2 linked regions of the Homo sapiens genome follow. The protein of the gene in region 1 interacts with the protein of each later gene in a pairwise test. Each region holds a gene or a part of one and is shown in the gene's direction. Other genes may lie near its edges.

What was found.
Region 2: the proteins of MAP4K4 (region 1) and TBPL2 interact in a two-hybrid assay, tested with the Homo sapiens proteins (one study listed by BioGRID).

What each region holds. Positions count from the first base shown.
Region 1 is NC_000002.12:101,868,707-101,875,706, forward strand, and holds part of MAP4K4 (mitogen-activated protein kinase kinase kinase kinase 4), read left to right. Parts: intron 1-915; coding exon 916-1,091; intron 1,092-1,588; coding exon 1,589-1,709; intron 1,710-2,787; coding exon 2,788-2,979; intron 2,980-4,940; coding exon 4,941-5,058; intron 5,059-5,375; coding exon 5,376-5,546; intron 5,547-7,000.
Region 2 is NC_000014.9:55,420,796-55,438,022, reverse strand, and holds part of TBPL2 (TATA box-binding protein-like 2), read left to right. Parts: exon of another isoform or gene 1-81; intron 82-1,004; coding exon 1,005-1,462; intron 1,463-2,088; coding exon 2,089-2,176; intron 2,177-4,301; coding exon 4,302-4,393; intron 4,394-9,048; coding exon 9,049-9,216; intron 9,217-13,769; coding exon 13,770-13,864; intron 13,865-13,938; exon of another isoform or gene 13,939-13,980; intron 13,981-17,227. UniProt on the Homo sapiens protein: Transcription factor required in complex with TAF3 for the differentiation of myoblasts into myocytes. The complex replaces TFIID at specific promoters at an early stage in the differentiation process.

The sequences.
Region 1 (7,000 bases):
CTCAGGGTCGCAGTGTCTCTTCATGTGTCACAGACTTGTCCATGAATGTGGCAGGTTGTGAACAGTCGGTGAAGTGAGATGTCAGTGGCATCCTAGTGCTCACTTCACTCCTTTCATTTTAATGTAGGTTTGAAGTTTTTTTTTTTTCAGTATGAGGTAAAATTCTAGATCAACAAATGTATATACACAGATCCTTGAGCTTTGGTGTAAAGACACATGTCTATATGACAAAGTCTTCTTTAAAGGGGTCAGTCCAGAAAGCAAGCCTCTAGTTAAATAAGCCTGATTTAAAGAGTTTTGGGAGGGAAGTTATGTTTCTACAACTTTTATTAATAAAATATTAAACCTAAAATGTTGATTTTAGTAAAATATTAATATTTATTACTAAAATTTCATAAATATCCTATAACTAGTAAATAAAAACATTAAATATTAAACCTTAGCGCTTTGAAGTTTTTAATAATAAAAGTTGAAGTAAAATAAAAATGTGTCTCTCAAAACCTTTTTTATGAGTCTAAAGAAGACTTTGTCATGTAGGGAGATCTCCTTACAACAAAGTCCAAGAGTCTGTGTATATACATTTGTTGATCTAGAATTTTACCTCATATTAAAAAACAACAGTAATACTATCAGCTTAACATAAGCAGATCTTTTTTTTATTGTCATGGGATTTGAACTGTATATGACATCTTTGACTTTTTTTTGGTGTCTTCTATTTTTTTTTTTTAATCTCTCTCTTGACTTTATTTGGTCTTTTCTATCAAAAGCCATAGGAGCTCACTTTCTCATGAAACTGGGTAACTATAAAAGTCTTACAAAACTGACATTGTGGCAATTTATGGTTAAAGAACTTCTCATCTTCTCCTGTCCCTGCTCCTGCTTGCCTTACTCTCTCTTTTCTGTCCTTTGCTTTAGGATCTGACCGCACTGGCCAAAGAGCTTCGAGCAGTGGAAGATGTACGGCCACCTCACAAAGTAACGGACTACTCCTCATCCAGTGAGGAGTCGGGGACGACGGATGAGGAGGACGACGATGTGGAGCAGGAAGGGGCTGACGAGTCCACCTCAGGACCAGAGGACACCAGAGCAGCGTCAGTCCCCGGTCTCTTTTAGAGCGGATGAGAGTATTCTCTCAGAGCCTGCTTTCCACTGGGACCTAGTTGTTCCTAGACTATTCCGTGACCCCATGAGCACTTACTATGTAGTTCTCGTGGATTCAGCAGCAGGTCGCCTTGTGTTTCCCCTTCTCTTCGTTGGTGTGTGCATATGTCAGTGCTTCCCCCAGCACCCCAGCGTGTACTTTATTTTTTCCTTTTGATTTGAGGATATATGATCCAGGGGAAATTTCAGTTTGGTATAACTACTTTAATTAGCCATAATTATTCATTCTAAGTTTTTGCTCAGAAACAAATGGCACTGGAAAGAAATTCTTTGTTAAAGGGAGAAAGCTAAGCAGTTGCTTTTTTGGAGGAGGCTTTATATCGGTAGCCTCATCTCATGTTTTGATTTTGAGAAGGCGAAAAGCCTAAACAGGATCTCCTTGACTCCAGAGATTAAGGCCTTTCACGTCTGGATTTTTTCTCCATAGGTCATCTCTGAATTTGAGCAATGGTGAAACGGAATCTGTGAAAACCATGATTGTCCATGATGATGTAGAAAGTGAGCCGGCCATGACCCCATCCAAGGAGGGCACTCTAATCGTCCGCCAGGTACCCGTGTCTTCTCTGTTGTCAGAGGCTGAGCTTCTCCTGTGGTCATTAACCCACTTGCTCATTCACTCACTCATGCTGTTTCTCCATCATCATCTGTTTTCATGTTAACAAGTCCCAGAGGGTCAAGTGTCGAGTGTCGGGGGCTAGGGAGGCAGGTGTGTACTGCATGCCCAGAAGGTAGCGAGTAGTCTCCACCCCACATCGCTGCTCCTCTGCATGTCTGCGGCAGCCCTCATTCAAGCACCGCGCTGAGTCTCACAGTCTATGTCTGAGCGGGAGAGAAGCCACAGGGAGTCCTTAAACAGGCTCACAGAGTGAGGAAGCAGGTCTGGAGTCTGGCAGAGCAGCCACCATGGCTCTGCAGAGCACGCTGGGCTCTGAGTGTCTGCAGTGCCACAGTGGGAGCGGGTGAGGCAGGCAGGACGAGCCTCATCACAGGCCCAGAGACTCGGAGAGCAGAAGGGTTCGGGAGGTTTCTCTTCTATGTTCCAAAATGTTAGTTTTCTCACTTGTTGAATAATTAAATGTGTGCCACCCAGATATGCTCAGTTTGGATCACTAAGCTTTATAACTGTCTGTTCATTTCTTAGCTTAGACTTAATTAAAGTGATACGCTTCTCATTTAAATAGAACAGGGCACCTATTTAGTATTTTGGACTTTGCCCTAAGTGTGTTTCATGCTATGGCAATGCATTCGGATGGAAAGTAGGAAGAATGTGGAAAAGACCAGGATTCAGAGAATCCACAGGTACTTTCTGGAGCTTTGCAAAGAAAGATTTAAAAAGAAAAAAAAAAGGATACTGGTTTTGGTAACAGAAGCTAGCGCAACAGATAAACCAGATTAAACACTCACTGCTCGAGCCGTGCAGCCACCAGATTAGGTACTTTGAATTCTGTTGGCACAAGTTAGGCATTTGGTGAGGAAGTGTGAGCAGTTCAGGCTAATTTCTTTGGTTTTTCCTTGGTAATTTAGCAGAGTTTATAAGTCACACAGCACCTTAAAGCAGTTATCAATAGGGCCATAGGCAATTTTAGCAGCGCTTGAGCGAGACAAGTGTGCCTGTTTTTTCTACAGAGTACAGTTGACCAAAAGCGTGCCAGCCATCATGAGAGCAATGGCTTTGCCGGTCGCATTCACCTCTTGCCAGATCTCTTACAGCAAAGCCATTCCTCCTCCACTTCCTCCACCTCCTCCTCCCCATCCTCCAGCCAGCCGACACCCACCATGTCCCCACAGACACCCCAGGACAAGCTCACTGCTAATGAGGTATGTCTCGCACCACAGCTGGCTGCTTTCCTGGGGTTAGACCAGCACTGCCTAGGAGTTAGTTTGCAAAGGAGACCTTTCCAACACCCTCACCCCTTCCCTTCCCACCCTGCTTTCTCTGTCACCTACCCTTCTCCCCAACCCCAAGTAACATGTTTCAGATCTGCATATAAACCCCTTAACCCTAGATCAGCTCCCCCAAACTTGCCAGTTCACTGTTTACTGTTCTGTAGATAAGTATAGTTGCATGGCTTTATCTAGTTTATTTTTTAAAAATCTAAATAAAATGATTGCTCTGTCCTCAGACCGGTATTATGTATTTGGCATGAAATTCTTATAGTCATTTGTGGAATCTGCCTTTTTCATTCTTTTTATCCAATAAATAAAATATAGGAAGATTCGGTTCAGCAGGCTTGGCCTTATCTGGACAAACTTATTATCCTGTACAGGAATCTCTTTCAAACAGAACTGATTTTTTTTTTTTTTCTTGTTTGGGGGGTGGGTTGTTGGCTGATTACTCTTACTTGTTTTCACCAACCCTGTTAAGGAGTTTGTTCTTTGACATTTACAATCACTCAGAGGTTTAGAAGCCAAATTATTTTTGGGAAACCTAGAAAAAATTAGGATGTTAAGCAAGAAGGACAAAGGTTTGAGCTTGTTTTTAATTTAAAATTTTGTGTGGGAAATCTGTGTGCTCCTTTGAAGGCTTGGTTGTGGTGCTCGGTCTGGGTGTTAGCTCAGTCTGGGTGATTCTTTGCTCTTTGAACAGGGTTATACTCCAGGTGTAGTGACATAGCCCACTTGAGCACCCGTATTGAATTAAACAAGTGATTTGATTCCACAGAAGATTTGGTTTAAGTGTCTTTATCTACCAGTTGAGGGAGGTTAGAAAGAATCAGAAAAATCCTCTCCTCCGGAGGAGCAGTGGCAAGTCAACTGCTTCCTAGACAGGCTTGGCATCGGCTAGACTGGCTCCTGACTCATGGGACAGGGAGGGAAGCTGCCAGGGGACAGATGTTCAGGTGGGAAGCTTAGGGGAGGGCATGGGCTCTAGGACATGGTGACCCTCAGGTGTCCATGGAGGGGGTCCAATGGTACAGGACAAAAGCACTTGATCAGACATGTTCCTTTTTTCTCCTGAGGTATATATCCCACCTACACTCACATTCTTCCTTATATTTATATTTTAAACTTTGCTCCATTTCGCTCTAATGTGCAGTATTTTACTATAACCCTTAACTCACTAAACCGGCAAATTTATTTTTCTGTTTGTTTTGTTTTTAATTGTCATTACATTTCCACTTAACAATTTGTTTCACTTCCTTTGTGTTTTTTTGTCTTAAGTTACATTATTAACCAAAACACTAGTGCTCCTAAAAGATCAAAAAGATACGCCTTCTTTTGTCATTTGCACCTTTCACTAATGAGTCCTCATTTGGTATGGGTTTAATGGTGATGCACCTAAAACAACAGTAGCCAAAGCTTCTGTAGCTTTCTGGCAAGAGGCTCAATTTAAAATAACTACAATTATTAACAATTGCCAATATTCCAGCATAGATTATTTGGACTCTTGGGTAGGAGAATAAATTCAGAAGTTGGTGAATTGAGATCAAGACATTTCAGACCTCCTTTAGGAGTTTCATTATAAGTATTTACTTAATTTTTTTTTAAAGCTAGGCACATGAAGTCTAGATTTCATTGGTAGCTTGCAGCACTGCTTTGTAAGTGAGCAATGTCTCTGGTAGAGATACGGCTCCTGCAGTGGTTCCAGGTAAAGCTGCCCTGAGGGGTGCTATGCCACGTGGAAGCTCCCCGCAGAGCATTTTTTGGGGGAATGATGCAAGGCAAATAGAGCAAAGTATTGGGAAATAGTGCAATATAGAAGTGAATTGAAATGTGTATTTTTAATGTTCATTTTTAAAATGCCAGTTGTATTAATAACATTGAAATTTACATTGCAGACTCAGTCCGCTAGTAGCACACTCCAGAAACACAAATCTTCCTCCTCCTTTACACCTTTTATAGACCCCAGATTACTACAGATTTCTCCATCTAGCGGAACAACAGTGACATCTGTGGGTAAGTACAGTAGCAACAAGAAAGCAGCTGACAAATGGGACTTTATCTTTGAGTTGCTCTTTTGGGTGGCTTAGGTGTAGCTGGTTGTTCACAGGCACAGACCTCGGGTACAGAAACTTCCCATCCCAGTTGTATGCCTTATTTGCAATGAGATGCAGAGTCCATTTCCTTTTTCCATATACATTGCTTACAGATTTCTTCTCTTTGACAAAGTGTTGGTTATACCACATGAATATTTACTTGAAGTATACTGGGGAAGGGAGGCAGGCATAGTGTGTGTGTGTACAGAAAATAATTTCAAATATATTGTGTTTCAGTGGGATTTTCCTGTGATGGGATGAGACCAGAAGCCATAAGGCAAGATCCTACCCGGAAAGGCTCAGTGGTCAATGTGAATCCTACCAACACTAGGCCACAGAGTGACACCCCGGAGATTCGTAAATACAAGAAGAGGTTTAACTCTGAGATTCTGTGTGCTGCCTTATGGGGTAGGTGTCTAGCCACTACTCCAACACTTTCATTTTTGTTCTGAGTGGTGGCTGGTCTTCTAGAGAAGTACTGCATTGAATAGTTTGTGGATAGACAGGATGGAAGACTTCTATGATGTCCATCTCCTGTTATATGCAGAGTGGTATATTAGCAGACTGGTGTGGCACATGTATATGATTGCACTCATTTTAACTGTCAAATATTGGCATGATTAATCTCCATTTTATTTTTATTAAACAAATTTTTGTAGTAGTTTTGTTACGTGGATATATTGTATAGTGGTGAAGTCTGGGTTTTTAGTGTAACCATCAGCCCATTATACTCAATAGTGTACATTGTACCCCTGAACCCTGAGGTTGACTGTTCTCACTATAAAATTCAATCATATCTAGCAGTGGAAATGTTGGAGAAGTATATTTATAAAAACTTACTGCAACATGCAACCCAGTGTTTTTCATTTTTCATGCTTGTAATTTCCAAGTACTTTACAGTGACTATTCTTTTGACTATTAGCATTCAGTACTTTATAAAATTATACAACTGTACAATTATACAACTTGGAAATATATCATGGAGAAGTAGAAGATAGAGTGTAAGTGCCACAATACCTGCAGCTTTTGTGTTTTGAAAAGAGTCTTCAGCTTTATCTTGTTACTCCCTCATTCTTTCTCACTGTAAAATCTTGAGGTTGATGTTTATATGTTAGTTTTTAGAAACACACATAATAGGATTTCTTCACAAGGCCCATATTTTGTGTAGTTATTACCAGATTCTTGACATAGGAGTTTAAAAAAATCTACTTGATACTGAAGATTGACCAGGAAAATATCAAAATATTGTGTAAAATAGAACCTTTGAAATGGTATCTGTCTGGCAGCAGTTCTATCAATAAATATCTGTCTTTTCTACCAATAATTTCTAAGCTGTTTTAGATCAACTTGCCTAGATATATGCAGGGAAACCTAAGCATAATATTCAAATAAGTTCCACCTTGACAAGGATATAGTCAGGGCAGAATGGCCAACCTCAAGAATAAAATTATATGAAAATGAATCACATATTACATATTTAAATATTTTTCTTATACTGATAATCTTTTTAGTTGTACAGCATTTTTTTTTTTTTAATCTCTAAGGGTTAAGTCACTATGCCCACAAGCATTGCTTGGGTAGATACTGTCCTCCAAATGTTGGGATAATCCCAACTCAATCAACTCTATAAGGACCAGGCATGAACAGAGAGAGGGCTGTAGGAGCGTTGTTCTCTCAATGCCGTCACAATTATTTATTTCAGATTATCTGGAAATAGGGTGTGGGTGGGTGTGGGCATACATGTATGTGCCATGATATTCTTCCGCCTCACTCCCTCTACACAAATACTTTATTCCTTGTCTTGGTGAGTTTATGACTGAGGAAATCAGTACACACAGATATGTGCCCAATTCCCTAGGAAT
Region 2 (17,227 bases), on another chromosome or scaffold:
TTTTACATTAGTTGCTTTCCTCAGGTGCACACATCATTCTCTCCGTTGCTGGATAATGGTAGTTGAGCAGCCTTCCCTGGACTGAAAATAAATTGATTTACACTATTCTTACCATTTAAGTTTCAATAACTTTTTTCCTAGTGTAAATTCTTCTAACTAGAACATTACAAGAATTCTTATTACGCCTTTGCCTAGAAGGAATAACCATGGGTCTTTAGTGAGTCTTGATTAGCATTCAACTATATCTTAAACTTCCTTCATTTATTCTATTTACATTTAAAACTCAAAATTATTTCAAAGTAAAGTCAACTAAAGTTTATAATTAACTTAAATAATACAGTATATCTGTTCTCTTCAAAGTATACAACAATTTAGAGCATGGTTGCTCAATTGCCTCTATTGCAAAATTGGACTTAGAGAGTGGCAACTTACTAGAGATCTAACCAAAGTAGCTAAGATAGTTTATGAAGAATGCTTTTTCTGCATTTTAAAATATTCTTTTCTGTTTCCATTAAGTGTGCTGTAACTGTAATAGAATCATTTTTTAGATGGAGTCTCGCTCTGATACCCAGGCTGGAGTGCAGTAGCATGATCTCGACTCACTGCAACCTCTGCCTCCCAGGTTCAAGAGATTCTCATGCCTCAGCCTCCCCAGTAGCTGGGATTACAGGCAGGCACTACCATGCTCTGCTAATTTTTGCATTTTTAGTAGAGACGTGGTTTCACCACATTGGCCAGGCTAGTCTCAAAACTCCTAGCCTCCAGCCATCCGCCTGCCTCAGCCTTCCAAAGTGCTGGGATTACAGGCGTGAGCTACCACATCTGGCCTGTAGTAGAATCTTAATGGCATTTTCTAGAAAAAAGCAGTGCATGAATACAAGCAATCTTGAACTGCCTCTTACACTGAATACATTGCCTGCCTGCCTGCCATAGTGACATCCCTTTTGTGTAACATGCTGTTCTGTCTGTTGTGTTTTTGTCTGTCTGTTTTGGGAACTGCCTAGGATGGCCTTGCCCCACCCAGGTCTCCCCTGTTCAGCCCAGTTGTACCTTATGATATGTACATACTGAATGCATCCAATCCGGATACTGCATTTAATTCGAACCCTGAAGTCAAAGAAACATCTGGTGATTTCTCATCTGTGGATCTTAGCTTCCTACCAGATGAAGTTACCCAGGAAAATAAAGACCAGCCTGTCATTAGCAAACACGAAACTGAAGAAAATTCTGAAAGCCAAAGTCCACAAAGTAGGTTGCCATCACCCAGCGAACAGGACGTTGGGCTGGGCTTAAACAGCAGCAGTTTGTCAAATTCCCATTCACAGCTGCACCCTGGTGATACTGACTCAGTCCAGCCCTCTCCTGAGAAACCAAACTCCGACTCCTTGTCTCTGGCATCCATAACTCCCATGACACCAATGACCCCTATTTCAGAATGTTGTGGAATTGTACCTCAACTACAGTAAGTTTTTATTTTTGTTTTAATTGAGCACATTGGGTACACATTTTATATTCCTGAATGCGATGACAACTAATTTCAGGATAATAGTAGGGAAGAGAATTTCAGATTTCATAATTCTTTGTTTTATCAGTTCTAAATGGATTGTGGCTTTAGACAGTTTGATTATCTGTAAGGCAAAGCACTAATTCTTGACCTCTAAGGTGGGCGGAGGGGACTTAAAGATTAATAGATGCATTCTTGAAGGATTGTATTGTTTATACTACAGCACTGTAGTTGCTGAAAATTGTGGGTAGGGTTGGATAAACACCAAGGATATAAAGATGTAAAATTGAGTTTGATTTGCAAATTGATTCAGAATTGTAATTTCTATTTTGAGGCATTGTTTTGAAAAAAGATCTAAAACTTAATTTTAGCAGCTAGTCATGAAATTTTAGGAAAGGCTCTTTAGCACTTCACTTTGGGATTTTACACTTAACTAGGAATCATGTCATGTATTTCACATTTGGAATAATTCTCCCCCTAGGAAATTGCTAAGGTATAACCTAAGAAATGAGAAAATAAGTTGTCTTTTTTTTTTTTTACTCTTTATATCTGATATAAGTTTCTAAACTGACTTATTTCTTCAGGAATATAGTTTCCACTGTAAACCTGGCCTGTAAGTTGGATCTGAAGAAAATAGCTTTGCATGCAAAAAATGCAGAATATAACCCAAAGGTAACATTTCTCAGTATTCCTTCCAATAATTAGCTTCTCTTTAGATTTACTTTTCTTAATATGATCATGATATTGACTAATTCCTCTGTTTTTTCTTAAAAAATTGTTACTGAAAAAGCTTTTGGCAACTCAGGGTTAATATCTGTTTTGAGTTATAAAAAATAATCTCATTCTTTATGCTGAATAAAGCAGTAATTGAGCAGTTCCTTAAAGATAAGCTCTCTCCCTTGTCATTCAAAAATATTTTTTAGTATGATTATAATTTTTCACTTAGGCTGGGCACGGTGGCTCACTCCTGTAATCCCAGCACTTTGGGAGGCTGAGGCAGGTGGATCACGAGGTCAGGAGTTTGAGACCAGCCTGACCAACATGGTGAAATCCCGTCTCTACTAAAAATACAAAAATTAGCTGGATGTTGTGGCGGGTGCCTGTAATCCCAGCTACTCAGGAGGTTGAGGCAGGAGAATCACTTGAACCCAGGAGGCAGAGGTTGCAGTGAGCCAAGATCATGCCATTACATTCCAGCCTGGGTAACAGCGAGACTCCGTCTCCAAAAAAAAAAAAAAAATTTCACCTGACTATTGGGATGCTAACTATCTTAAAATGCCATCAAATTTCTGGAAATAATTTTTGCCAAATGTTGTCTCAGCTACCTGACACTTATGTATCTTTCCATTACAATTCCTCTTATCTGAGAAGGCTAAACTGCTTAAAGTATAAAGTTCAAGCTCCTATTTACTAATGTAAGATTCAGGGATTTTTTTTTTCGTCCTCCTCAAAGTTTAATAAAATCTATTCTTTCTTGTATCCTGCCAAGGCCAGGCATCCTGTTTTCAATGGCTTGTTTACCTAGGGTAATTGGGTTTGTCAATCCTATCAACTTTTAACGATTTGCCAGGCTCTGTACTTAGGAGTACAAAGATGAGTAAGACCTGCTTCCTACTGGGAAAAAGTTCACTGGCTTAGGTGGTGGAGGATTTATGGAATTAGATGAAAAAAGGTCACATTCGTAGGAACCCAGAGACCTTGCAGGCATCAACTATTATTTGTTTTTGCTGTTGCCCTAGTATTGTTGCTGACATCTGAATTTAAATGTTACCTCGATGTTACCCGAATACAATAAAGCTTTCCTTTTGATATTTCATACAGCTGACAATGGTGAGGACAGACACAAAGATGAGCTAAGATCCTCACAGCTGCAGCTGTGATCACATTATTGAACAATCAGCATTTTAGGCAACTTTTATTGTCCACCATCCTCAGCACACCTCTCATTTTGGACGAGGGGTAGGGGTGGGCAGGGCTGGGGATGAGTGTATAGGATCTCTCTGAACTTGTGCTTGACACCCAGAGAAATTCTGGCTTGGCCCTTAAGCTAGCACCCACCCCAGTTTCCTTCCTAGCTTAACCGGGGAGAGGAGTTGGGGTGAAGAGACTATCTGTGTAGGAGCAGGCCATTTGATGACACGTCCATGTGGCAGGCCAGAGGTTCCCTACCCTCACGAGTGTCAGCCTCACCTGCAGGGCTTGCTGATGCTGCTGGTCTTGAATGACACTTTGAGAACTATAAGAGGCAAGAACCTTGACATCAACTTTCTGTCATTCATCTTTAGCATGCCTATCATACAGACTCTTCTGCATTTTGGTCATTTTTCAGTACATTCTGAAGTCTTGGTGAGCCTTTAACATACTTATTTTTTTCCCAAAAGATTCTTCAAAAGAAAAAGGAAGTGTGTCAAAGTAAAAAGCAGAGAATCTGATTAGTGTGGGTTTTGAATCTTAACTTTACCACTTCCTGTGTAATATTGGAGGTTATATTGCTACTTGTTTTCCCTGAGCACTAAATGAGGATAATAAACACAAGTTCATCCTATCATGAGAATAAATAGGAACTGAAACATAACAGGCATTCAAATTTAAGAGTTACTGATATTATTTTTACCTGTTAATAAGTACATTTTAGAATCATCATTATTTTTGTTAACCTTAATGTAGGGAGAAAAGACCCAGACATTTAGTTTTCCCATCCAATCTGTTTGAGATTTTCATATTCAGCTCGGCTTTTTCAACTGGGATAATGTTAACTCCTAGCAGAGGCTAATTCTCTTTTGGTTTCTGGGTATAGAGGTTTGCTGCTGTCATAATGAGGATCCGAGAGCCCAGGACAACAGCCCTTATATTTAGCTCTGGGAAGATGGTCTGCACGGGAGCCAAAAGGTATGAGGAATCATCCCTCCACCCCTACCAGAGAAACAATTTAGTATGTAAAACAAGGAAGCATAGAATTAATGTGCTAAAGCACATAGTAGAAGCAAAATGCCTTTCTTTGCTGAAGACTTTATTCAATGAAATGCCACATTTTGGGTTAAAAACACTCCTATAAATACTGACTTGGGCCAGGCATGGTGGCTCACATCTGTAATCCCAGCACTTTGGGAGGCCTAAGCAGGAGGATCGCTTGAGCCCAGGAGTTTGAGACCAGCCTGGGCAACACAGTGAGACTCCATCTCTGTTAAAAAAAAAAAAAAAAAAAAAAAGAGAAATCTAAAAAGTAGCTGGATGTGGTGGTGCATGCCTCTAGTCCTAGCTACTTGGGAAGCTGAGGTGGGAGGATCACCTGAGCCCATGAGTTTGAGGCTGCAATGAGCTATGATCATACCACTGCAGTCCAGTCTGAGTTACAGAGCAAGACCCTGTCTCTATTAAAAAAAATAATAAAATACTGACATATCCCCATTTTACAGTTTCCCCTATTAAACCGAGGGGACTTAACTGCGCTGCTACAACTTGTTTCTAAGGTGAATTTTTTTTAAGTTACAGTAATGATGAAGTGTGTTATAAGTCTGGGGAAGTAGTTATTGTGGATTTTCCTCATTGCAGATAAATGGATAGAACTTTCTAAAGGAGCTCAATTAGACATTCCTTGAGCATTAGCTTGCATTAGCTCAGGAGGCATCCCTTAAAAATCTCATCTCTCCTGGATCTCACGCAGAGGAAGCCCTGTGTTGATGGGTATTCTTTCACCATAACTCTGTAGTGGCAGAGCCTGTTTTCTCCTGTAGGTGTTAAAAGATAAGAAGCAAATTCTCCTCCTGAAAAGTTGTGCCAATTTCTCGCTCTATAAATGTACTAAGTGTTCATTTTATCCTGTGGACACTGGGTGTCGATATTCTTTTTATATTTGCTAAATTGATTGACAAAAAGTTACATTGTTTTACATTTCTTTGATTTACTAGTGAGATTAAATAACTTTTTAGAAGTGCAGAAATTGCTATGTCATTTGCTCAGTTATCTATGGAGAGATTTATCTTTTGTTTTTGTTTTGTTAACTATTTTCACCATTTTATACTGTAAATATTTTTTCTCAGATTACTGTTTATGGTATTTTATGGTGTTTTTTTTGTTGTTTGTTTATTTGTTGTTTTTTTTTTTCTGAGACACGGTCTCACTGTGTTATCCAGGATGGAGTGCAGTGGTGTGATCTGGGCTCACTGCAACCTCCACCTCCCGGGCTGGAGCCATCCTTCCAGCTCGGCCTCTTAAGTAGCTGGGACCACAGGTATGCACCACCAGGCCTGGCTAATTTTTTTTTTTTTTTTTTGTAGAGACGGGGGTTTCCCCATATTGCCCAGGCTGGTCTCGAACTCCTGGGCTCAAGTAGTCCTCCCACCTTGGTCTCCCAAAGTGCTGGGATTACAGGCGTGAGCTACTACATCTGGCCTATGGTGGGTTTTTTAAAAAACACAAATTTTGAAGGGTATACTCATTTTATCCCATTTTTTTCTTTGTTTTCTACATTTGGCTTTGCCCTTAAGGCATTTGTGCACAGTATTATACAAATATTGACTTTCATATATTTTTTGGTCTTTTTCAGGTCCTGCTTTGTGATAGGAAAAGGATAGCTGGTATTTTGATTCACTTAGAGCTTTCTCTAGATGGAAATGTTCTATATCTGCACTGTTTAATGCAATGATATAGCCACTAGTCAGATGTGGCTACTGAGCACTTGAAATACAGCTAATACAACTGAGGGACTGAATTTATATTAATTGGACAGAGCAGATCTAGAATTTTGTTTCAATGTAAGATAATTATTTTTCCCAAATGATCAGTCGGTACTCAGATACATTTATTGAAGGATCCATTGTTACTACATTTCCCCCAATCTGTTTTTACATATTAAGTTCTTCACATGTGTCTGAGTACATTGCTGGACTTTCTCTTATGTTGATCCCAGGAATCTCCATTTTAAAGTGATTATTGGACAGTTGTGCAAGATGTCTGTAATAATGTTCATTTCAGCAATAGAACAGGGAAAACCTAATTAATAATAGGGTTTCAATTTGAAGTCATAAAGTAAAATTGTATTAGCCATATAGTACACATACTGAGCTGAAAGGATGGTCACATTGTATTAAGTTGGATTGCAGAGGGAGAAGTAAGCAGCTAAATGGTGTTTGTTATCCAACTTTCATTGTAAAATATGCTCATGTTACACATATTACACACATTCATGAGTGTCTTTTCTTATCTGAATTTATTCCTAAAATCTGATAGTGAAAGTTTGGATAATGAGTTCAGATAATAAGAGATACTTTTTATCCAAATATATTTGGTTTTGAAGTTTTGGATAGTGAGTTGTGAGAATTTAGTTAATAAGAGGTGCCAGTATTATCTCCACATTTTATCCAAACCTATTCTCTTTTGTTGTAACAGCAAGAGTATGAGGGATACCTGTGTTTGCGTAGGAAAAGTGCAGAAGATCAAATTTAGGTAGTTAACACCAGTATGGGTGAGATTTTAAGATTTTTAAACTACTTTCTAATGTTTGTACAATGAACATGTATATAGACTTTCAACTATTAGTTGTTTCAATAGAAACTTCTGTGTCCTTAGAATATCACAGCTGATATCCCAAGAAACTACAGGACTATGCAAACTTGAACAAATTTGAACTTATTTACATTACGGGAAATGTAATAGATTAGTTAGGCAAAATGTAGTTCAAAATGGAAACAGTTTATTTTACTGCTAACCTGGGGACATGGCCTTGCTAAGGACATTTCAAGAGTGAGAAGTGGGTGAAGAGAGCCAAGGGCAGTGCTGTGCAGCTGTAGTCAATCTAGTGAGTAGATACCAGATCAACAGATGGCCATGTGCAGTGGCTCACACCTGTAACCTCAGTACTTGGGGAGGCTGAGGTTGGGAGGGTCACTTGAGTCCTGGAGTTTGAGCCCAGCCTGGGCAAGACAGCAAGACCCTGTCTCTATAAAAATTTAGGCAGGTGTGGTGGTGCATGCCCCTGCAGGCTACTTAGGAGGCTGAGGCAGGAGGATCACTTAAGGCCAGAAGTTCAAGGCTGCAGTGAGCTATGATCATGCCACTGCACTCCAGCCTGGGTAACAGAGCAAAAACCCAATCTCTTTTTTTTTTTTTTTTTTTTTTTTTAAAGTGGGTGAGGAGAATCAACATTAAATGAGGTGACACATGTATGTAGTAACGAATACCCAAGAGGGGGCAGTGTTGGTGAAGGATCTGGATAAGAGAATCAAACACTTGCTTTAGTCCAGGCAAACAAGTTCAAACTGGCTTTTCTTTCAGGTGTTTCTGATTTACAGCCTAAAAATAGGGCCAAACCCATGAGGGGGGTGGAATTCACCTGATTCACCCTGCAGGTGTTGCTACCTACTGTTTTGTTTTGTCACTAACAGTTGAAAAATACCTAAGGAGAAATGAAGCCTCACCTCTCAGGACTCCACAGGCTCTGCTATGAATTTAGGGGTGCAGCAGGACAGACACTTAAAGGACATAGCCACAGAGTAGGACAAATTCCTGTCCTTCTTGTGTTGAGTTTGAATTGAATTGAAGATTGGGTGAGAAAGCCGAGCAAAACAAGGGGGGTTTTGAGGTATTTTCATGTGGTTGTTTTGGACAGTGTGTCCAATAAAGACTCAAGAACTGATACCTTGTCTGTGCCACTCAATCAGCACATATCTTACCTCCTTATATGCGATTTTTTTTTGTATGCATGTGTCCTTATTTTTTCTTGTTGTTTTCTTTTTTTTTTTTTTTTTTTTTTTGAGACGGAGTTTCACTCTTGTTGCCTAGGCTGGAGTGCAATGGCGCGATCTCAGCTCACTGCAACCTCTGCCTCCCAGGTTCAAGTGATTCTCCTGCCTCAGCCTCCTGAGTAGCTGGGATTACAGGTGCCCGCCACCATGTCCAGCTAATTTTTTTGTATTTTTAGTAGAGACAGCGTTTCATCATGTTGGCCAGGCCGGTCTCGAGCTACTGTCCTCAGGTGAGCTGCCTGCCTCAGCCTCCCAAAGTGCTGGGATTACAGGCGTGAGCCACTGTGCCCAGCCATTGTTCTCTTCTAAATGGGACATACTTTGAGACTGGATGAATGGTTCCCAAACTGCAGTGAGCAGCACAGTTACCTAGAGGGCTTGTTAAAAGACAGATTGCTCGGCCCCACCCCCAGAGTTTCTGCATGTCTGAGGTGGAACCTGGGACTTTGCATTTCTAACAAGTTCCCAGGTGAAGCTGCTGGTCTGGGGACACACTTTGCGAATCCTTGGAATCGTTTTAGCAAATAACACCCAAGTAAAAGTAAAAGTACTTCATATATGAAAGGTGACAAATGAAGACAAAAATTTATGATTCTGTTCAACAGCTGTACAATTTTACAAGACCTTTTATAAGGTGCTAGGGACGAAAGTATGGGAAGTAAGTCCTCCTCACAAAGCCTACAGCTTCATAGTATACATTGAAAGATAAACGTGGTACAAATGGTAACAATCCAATACAACACCAGTAGTTGAGAGGATGTAGCGATTAAGACATCTTTAAACATATTTGCCCCTCCCCAGTGAAGAGCAGTCTCGACTTGCAGCAAGAAAATATGCTCGTGTGGTGCAGAAGCTTGGGTTCCCTGCCAGATTCCTCGATTTTAAAATTCAGAACATGGTTGGAAGCTGTGATGTGAGATTTCCCATCAGGCTGGAAGGTTTGGTGCTAACCCATCAGCAGTTCAGTAGGTATGACGGTTATATAGCTTGAACTTTGAATTTACCAAGATATTTAAGTTACATTATGGGTTGCTTACGTAAAGTATCTTTCAGAGAAATTGTGATTAAAAAAAAAAAGGCGGGGGACACAATAGTGAAAAGATTAAGATGCTATGCCTGAGTTCTCATAGGTTACCACATGTGCCCAGTCTTTTGAAACCATGGTTCTTAAACTTACATTGCTTAGCAATCACTTAGCTTATTAAAGCACACATCTCTGGCTGGGTTTCTTCACCAGAGATTTTGCTAGAATTTGTGTTTCTAAAAAGCTCAAAGGTGATGACAGTGCTACTGGTCAGAGGCCCACACATTGAGATCCAGTAATCTACAGATTTGTAAGCATACAAACGTAGCTTGGCAATGACACTGGCAAGATAAGGCATGTGTTGGGAGGCCGAGGCAGGCGGATCACGAGGTCAGGAGATCGAGACCATCCTGGCTAACACGGTGAAACCCTGTCTCTACTAAAAATACAAAAAATTAGCCGGGCGTGGCAGCGGGCGCCTGTAGTCCCAGCTACTCGGGAGGCTGAGGCAGAAGAATGGCCAGAACCCAGGAGGTGGAGCTTGCAGTGAGCCGACCTCGCGCCACTGGACTCCAGCCTGGGCGACAGAGCGAGACTCCGTCTCAAAAAAAAAAAAAAAAAAAAAAAAAAAAGATAAGGCATGTGAAATGGACTAGGCCGGTAGGAAGGGGCTTGACAGCTGGTGAGGGGAGAATGGATTGGGGAGAAGATGAAAAAAGAATGCTGTAGCACGTTCTATGAAAGCAATCCTGGGAGGCTGAGGCAGGAGAATGGCGTGAACCCGGGAGACGGAGCTTGCAGTGAGAGATCGCGCCACTGCACTCCAGCCCGGGCCACAGCCAGACTCCGTCTCAAAAAAAAAAAAAAAAAAGCAATCCTAACTAGTTTGTCCCCTATCTGTGTGTGTGTGTGTGTGTGTATATAGCTGCAGCCCGCAACACAATGTTGCCTGTAGTATATTCCTTTTCCTAGGGAATATCTCTAGCCTTCCTGACTTCAGACTTCCCGTCTCAACAGCTAGTGCTCCTCCCCCGCCCCCAGCCGTTTTGGTGGCTCTCCCATCCCAGGCCCTCAGAGAGCAGGGATGGAGGGTGACTCATGGACACCAAACCCCTTGACTCACCAAGATATACACCTGGGCTAGGGCACTTGGCCTGGGTTAATCACAGATGCTCTTAAATTCTCTTGGCCAAGCTGGAACTGAAGTTCTTTCATTCCAACGCCTTATCTTCTCTTGGCCATCGAATGATTATCCCGTCAATAGAGTAGATAGGGATCATATTGCTGTGCTTTCCCTAACATTTGTTAGCTTTCCTTTCAGATATGATCTGAATGGAAGTTAAAAATTCCTTTTTCTTCTAAAATATTTTCATTCATTCTGAGATTCAGCTTTTATGATATGCTTATTTTTCTTTTGACATGTTTATTTTTCTCTTGATTATGTTTTCTTTTTTCTTCAGTTTTTTCACTGTATGCTATTGAATGCCTAAATATACCCCATTTTTTAAAAATCTGAGCTCCCTATAAAGTCCTCCCATTCCCCCATGTAAGACATGTTGCCTCTTTAGGTATCTTTCTTCCTTCAATCTTGGCATAATTTGCAGATTTCCTAATAAAGCCTGTTTCTAAGAGTCTCCCAGTGCTTAAGTTGTCTTATCTTCCAGACTCTCAAGTCACGAGCCTCCAGCCTATCTTTCTCTGAATCGGCTTAGTGTACATCTGCAAGAGCTCTGCCCGAACTCTAAGGTTGTGTCTACATTAGACTTAGCATTCCCTTCTGGCCATTCAGGGCTCGAAAATGATGTGTGTGGTTCTTCCCAAGTGTCCATTCATTTCTTTTTCACCAGCATCTTCCTTGCAGAGCAGATCTAAGTCTAGAATAGGTGCCCCTTGTTATTACTACCAGCTTCTGGAAGGGTTGCCAGTAAGGCGCAGTGAGAATACATCAGACGGAGTGGGCCCATCCCTGTTCTATCTTCCTCCTGGGACAGTTTTATGATCTCAGTCATCTTTTCTTTTCTTTTCTTTTTTTTTTTTTAATCTGGCCAGGAAGCTTGCTTTGTATTCCCACAACTTTCTATTTCTAGTCTCATTCTTGCCTCCCCCTCATCCTCTCCATTCGGCTGTCAGCCTCAGGTTATGGATTACAACTCCAGAGTGTGTATTCTTGACACTGGGAACATTAAAAACACCTCTTAGAAGATTTGAATTTTTAACATGAGGCCTCTCTAATTGTCTGTAGCTCTGTGGGGAACCATGCTACATAATCAGTTATAATTATCAGGCCAAATTTGCCTTGTGTTAAACCCCTAAGGTCATTCAGTTTCCCAGGTTCTGCAAATTTGTATGTCAACATTTAATAATACAAGTATCTCCTTTTGTTACCAGGCACTTTCTCTGGTAATCTTTCTATGACATAATCATTTCCACAGTTGTCAATGAGAATTTTTCCCTCTTTATTTTATTTATTTATTTTTTTTTTTTGAGATGGAGTTTTGCTCTTTTGCCCAGGCTGGAGTGAAGTGGCATGATTTCAGCTCACTGCAACCTCCACCCCCCAGGGTTCAAGTGATTCTCCTGCCTCAGCCTCCTGAGTAGCTGGTATTATAGGCACCCACCACCACACCCGGCTAATTTTTGTATTTTTAGTAGAGACGAGGTTTTACCATATTGGCCAGGCTGGTCTTGAACTCCTGACCTCAGGCGATCCACCCACCTCGACTTCCCAAGTACTAGGATTACAGGTGTGAGCCACCGCACCCGGCCCCCTCTTTAATTTTTAATTCAAAGGTATCCTGATATAAATACTTGCTATATGAATAAGATCTAGGTGACTACCATGTAGCAGATGCTAGGATGATAATGGCAAGCAATATAGCTATAGTCCCTTGCCCACATAGAGATCACTGTCTAAAAGAAAAGATGGACAAGTCAATGACAGTAATGAAACATGGTGACTGTGAAGGTAAGGCCCTTCAGGGGCTATGAGACCATAAAGCAGGGTCTTTAATGTAATTGGGGGTGGGTAGAGATCAAGGAAGATTTTCTTGGGGAAGTAACATTTAAAATGAGACTTGAAGGATGGGTCAAAGTTGGGTTGGCCAAGAAATTGGCAGGTGTTCGATATTCTCAATCTTTGTGAAATGTTCTCCATCCCTAACCAAAACCACTCTCTTTCTCTGCCTCAGCCTTCTTTTGGAATGAGGCAGAGAATAAATAAAATGAAGTATATTCCTAATTGGGAGCACATTATACTGGTAATCTTAAAACCATGGTTCTAAAAGCTAAATGCAGTTCAATATCATTTACATACCAAAGTTTTTGTTTTCTCTTTTCTAAGTCTTAAAATTTAGCTGGAAGATCAAATGGAAATCTTCTTTTTGTGTCTCCAGCCTTCATTTTCTTGGCCTGGATCTCATAGCCCTGGAGGGTTTTTCAGGGCTCCCCCTAGTGTCATGGTCTCCCCAGTGTTGGGAAGTGGTTAGTGGGAGAAAGTCTTGACAGGCTCCCTGCAGTAAGACAGAGTGATGTTCCAGAAGACAGTTCCACCCACAATGACCTCCTATACTTGAGATGGGCAAGACTCACTTCAAGATGCGCCTTTCTGGAGCCAGTAAAAGGTTCCACATCTGCTGTTGTTTTTGGGTCTTGTTCATTGCTGAACTGAATGGAGCTTTTCCATGCAGTCTGGATTCACCCTTTAAGTGCAAAGATGCTAGTGTTCCATTGCTTGGATGTCTTTTTTTCTTATATTTCTTGTCCATTAGCCACTGCTTTGAGAATAGTTTTATTCACCTCCTCTCACTTCCTGACTTCTTTTTGGTAGGTTCCTCAAGCCTTTCTAAGAATCTGCCCTCCTCTCCAGGCTGGAGTGTGGAGAAGAAGCTCTTAAGTGCTATCATCTTTCGCTCCATGGAGTGGCCAGCTTATATTTAGTAGTAAATATGAGTTACTATTTATAGCAACAAATCCTGAATTGTAAAAACTCGGGATAATTGGATTTTCTTTATTTATATAGCACCTGTTCAAATACAAATAGCAGTGGCCTAGAAATATTTTTAGGTTCTATCTGCTAAAAATGTTAACTTCAGCAGTTCGTAAAAGCATACAAAATATGTTTATTATTGGAGAATTTGGAAACCCAGAAAAACATGATTATGTATTCTTATTAACAGACTTTTTTGAAAAGATAGAGGATGTTTAACCAACAAGCTCTCAATACACTAAATCAGATGCCCTAAGTTACCTTGATTTCTAATAACCATCCAGGATAGCTTGCACTTGTGTTATGACCCAAAATTAATTATGTTCCTAACTTCCATAAGATATTACCTAGGACACTCAAGACTCTTCATCAAGATAGTTAAAAAGTTTTTGATAAAATAGCTAACTTATTTACAACTGCTTTAATATGCACTTTAATATACTGGGCCTTACATGTTATGGGAAAGGAGCTGAATAGTGCTATTTTTAACATTTTCCTTTTACATCTTAACAGTTACGAGCCTGAACTGTTTCCTGGTCTTATTTATAGAATGGTAAAACCACGAATTGTGTTGCTTATCTTTGTATCTGGAAAAGTTGTGTTGACAGGTAAGTGCTAAGATTATTTTCTGACTCATAAAATGTAATTGCTATGCATGTGCTTTGCTTATTCTTTTAAATACCTTTGTTCACCATGGTAAAGTAATTCTTGTTATACAGAATACCTGGAATGAAAAATAAGAAAGGAATAACATCACCCATAGGTCCCAGTACCTAAAACAACATTTTTTTCATGTTTTTATGTCATTTTATTAAGTATTTCATCTTTACATCCTGATTTTTTTACAGAATTATCCATGATAACATATATGGCTTAAACTTACTGTTACAAACTCTTCATAAAGGCTTTTAATGGCCACACAAGGTCCTAACACAGGGGTTAACAAACTCTTTTCTGGAAAGGGCCAAATACTAAATATTTTAAGCTTTGTGAGCCACAGGGTCTGTCACAATTACTGAGCACTGCCATCGTAGTGTGAAAGCAGCTCTGAATGTTACATTATATAAAGGAATGGGCTCTGAAATGTGAATTTCATATCGTGACATAATTTATGTGTGTTATGTAATATTTTTTCCCCAACTGCTGAAAAAGATAAAAACCATTCTTAGCTCATAGGCTAACAAAATCAGGCAGCAGGATGGCTTTAGCCAGCAGACCTACCTTTGCTGAACCCATTCTAACATGTTATTGAATCAAACGTATTGTCCCATTGCTAGATAGGTAAATGTTCCTTCTTTGTTTGCTACTTATGAAGGGCAGACATTTGGCTGCTTTTACCTGTAGACAATTATGATATTAGTGTGGACACTCAGAAATGGGACTTTCGTTTAAGGCTATGTCCATTTTGTTCTTAGAACAAATCGCCCAATTGTTTTAAAGGGATATATGACATAGTTCTGTATCACATGGTCTTAAATGCAATGTATCTAAATATCTTTTACCAAATGCTTGGCAGCATTCCAAACAAAATGGTACCAAAGAAAACTTTAACTGTATATGTAAAAATTATCTCACTACTTTAACCCCACCGGTAATCAGAGACAGAAATCGACCATTTTTCAACACATCCAATAAATAGCATTTTGTCTCTTGTAAATAATATGTACATGACATAACTTATCCTTTTGTCTACTTAGCTTGTATTTTCTCGGGATTTGAGTTTACTATAATACTATTAAAGACAAATTATTCTTTGCTATATTTGTTATTTTTTCCTGTTGGCTTTTTTTTAAATAATTTTTGCATAAATAGCACTTTTTAAAACTACTTGAGGGAATGGTTCAGACTCTTTTCTATGTCATTCTACAGAAGGTTGCTATATATATTGTTGTTTGTTTGTTTGTTTTTGTTTTTGAGACAGAGTCTCACTCTGTTGCCCAGGCTGGACTATGGCGGCGCGATCTCAGCTCACTGCAACCTCCACCTCCAGCGTTCAAGTGATTCTCCTGCCTCGGCCTCCTGAGTAGCTGAGACTACAGGCACATGCCACCATGCCCAGCTAATGTTTTGTATTTTTCGAAGAGATGGGGTTTTGCCAAATTGGCTAGGCTGGTCTCGAACCTCTGGCCTCAAGTGATCTACCTGCCTTGGCCTCTCAAAGTGCTGGGACTACAGGTGTGAGCCACTGTGCCCCACCTACAGAAAGTTGCTATTTTATGACCGGGCGCGGTGGCTCACGCCTGTAATCCTAGCACTTCGGGAGGCCGAGGCAGGCGAATTATGAGGTCAGGAGTTCAAGATGAGCCTGGCCAACATGGTGAAACCCTGTCTCTACTAAAAATACAAAAAAAAAATTAGCTGGGCATAGTGGCAAGCGCCTGTAATCCCAGCTACTCAGGAGGCTGAGGCAGGAGAATCGCTTGAACCTAGGAGGTGGAGGTTGCAGTGAGCTGAGATCGCGTAGTCTACTTTTGTCTTTTTATACATTTCACTCTCCTCTACCATAATGAATGCCAAGTTTATGTGGCCTGAGCCAAACTGATCTCCATGCCCCAGTCCCAAATAGCTAGCCAACCAACTTAACGCTACATATCTTCTCATTAATTTTGGATGACTCCTTTTGACCTTTCTTTTACATATGTGGCTGTTCTTCGGTTCTGCCTTTGCTCTAGGTTTATCCTATTATAATCCTATTGCCTTTATCTTATTGTAGCTTTAATACTCATGGTATATCTAATAAGGCCAATTTCCCCTCATTACTTTAATTTTTATATTTCTTAGCCTCTCTTAAATGTATATTCCTCCAAACTAGAATTTTATAAAATCTTGCCTCATCTAAAAAAATTGAGACTTTTATATTACCTGAATTCAGAAAAGTTGATTAAGTCATAACTCAGCATCCAGCAAAATGACATGTCTGTTTTAAGTGTTCTTTTATAACTCTGAGTTGTATAGTTTGCTTTTCTTTAAGAAATAATTAATGTGTCTTCAAAGAGGGGAAAGTTTCTGGGTATGGTGGCTCACGCCTGTAATCCCAGCACTTTGGGAAATTGAGGCAAGCAGATCACATGAGGCCAGGAATTCAAGACCAGCCTTGCCAACATGGTGAAACCCCATCTCTACTGAAAATACAAAATTAGCTGGGCATGGTGGCAGGCACCTGTGACCCCAGCTACTTGGGAGGCTGAGGCAGGAGAATCACTTGAACCTGGGAGGCAGAGGCTGCAGTGAGCCAAGTTCGCGCCACTGCACTCCAGCCTGGGTGACAGAGTGAGACTTCATCTTAATTAAAAAATTAAAAACAAAGTGGGGAAAGCTTGTTTGGAATCCAAGAACGTTTTGAATGCAGCAAAACTACAATTCCTCAGATGGCACTAATTTAGAGTCTGGAGTAATTAAGACCCCCTAGTGACTGACATAAAGTTTACCTCTACATGTCCTAGAGGAAGTGAGAAAAGCCTGCCAATAAAATTGAATAGTGTAGATATCAGAGGCAAATACATACCCTACTTAGGGAAACACACTTTCAAGTCCTTTGGAAGGAAACTTTCATAAGTGCCATGTATCATTACAAATAAATCTTATTAAAAGTGCAAATTGCCAAATACAGGCAAAGTTCCTATTATAGATTTCTTTAAATGCCCTTAATTCAGATCAGCTTTCCCACCTACCCCAAATTTCTTTTTTCTTTTTTTTTTTTTTTTTTGAGACAGATTCTCACTCTTTTGCCCAGGCTGCAGTGCAGTGGTGCGATCTCGGCTCACTGCAACCTCCGCCTCCCGGGTTCACGCCATTCTCCTGCCTCAGCCTCCCCAGTAGCTGGGACTACAGGCACCTGCCACTATGCCCAGCTAATTTTTTTTGTATTTTTAGTAGAGACGGGGTTTCACCGTGTTGGCCAGGATGGTCTCGATCTCCTGACCTCGTGATCCACCCGCCTCGGCCACCCAAAGTGCTGGGATTACAGGAGT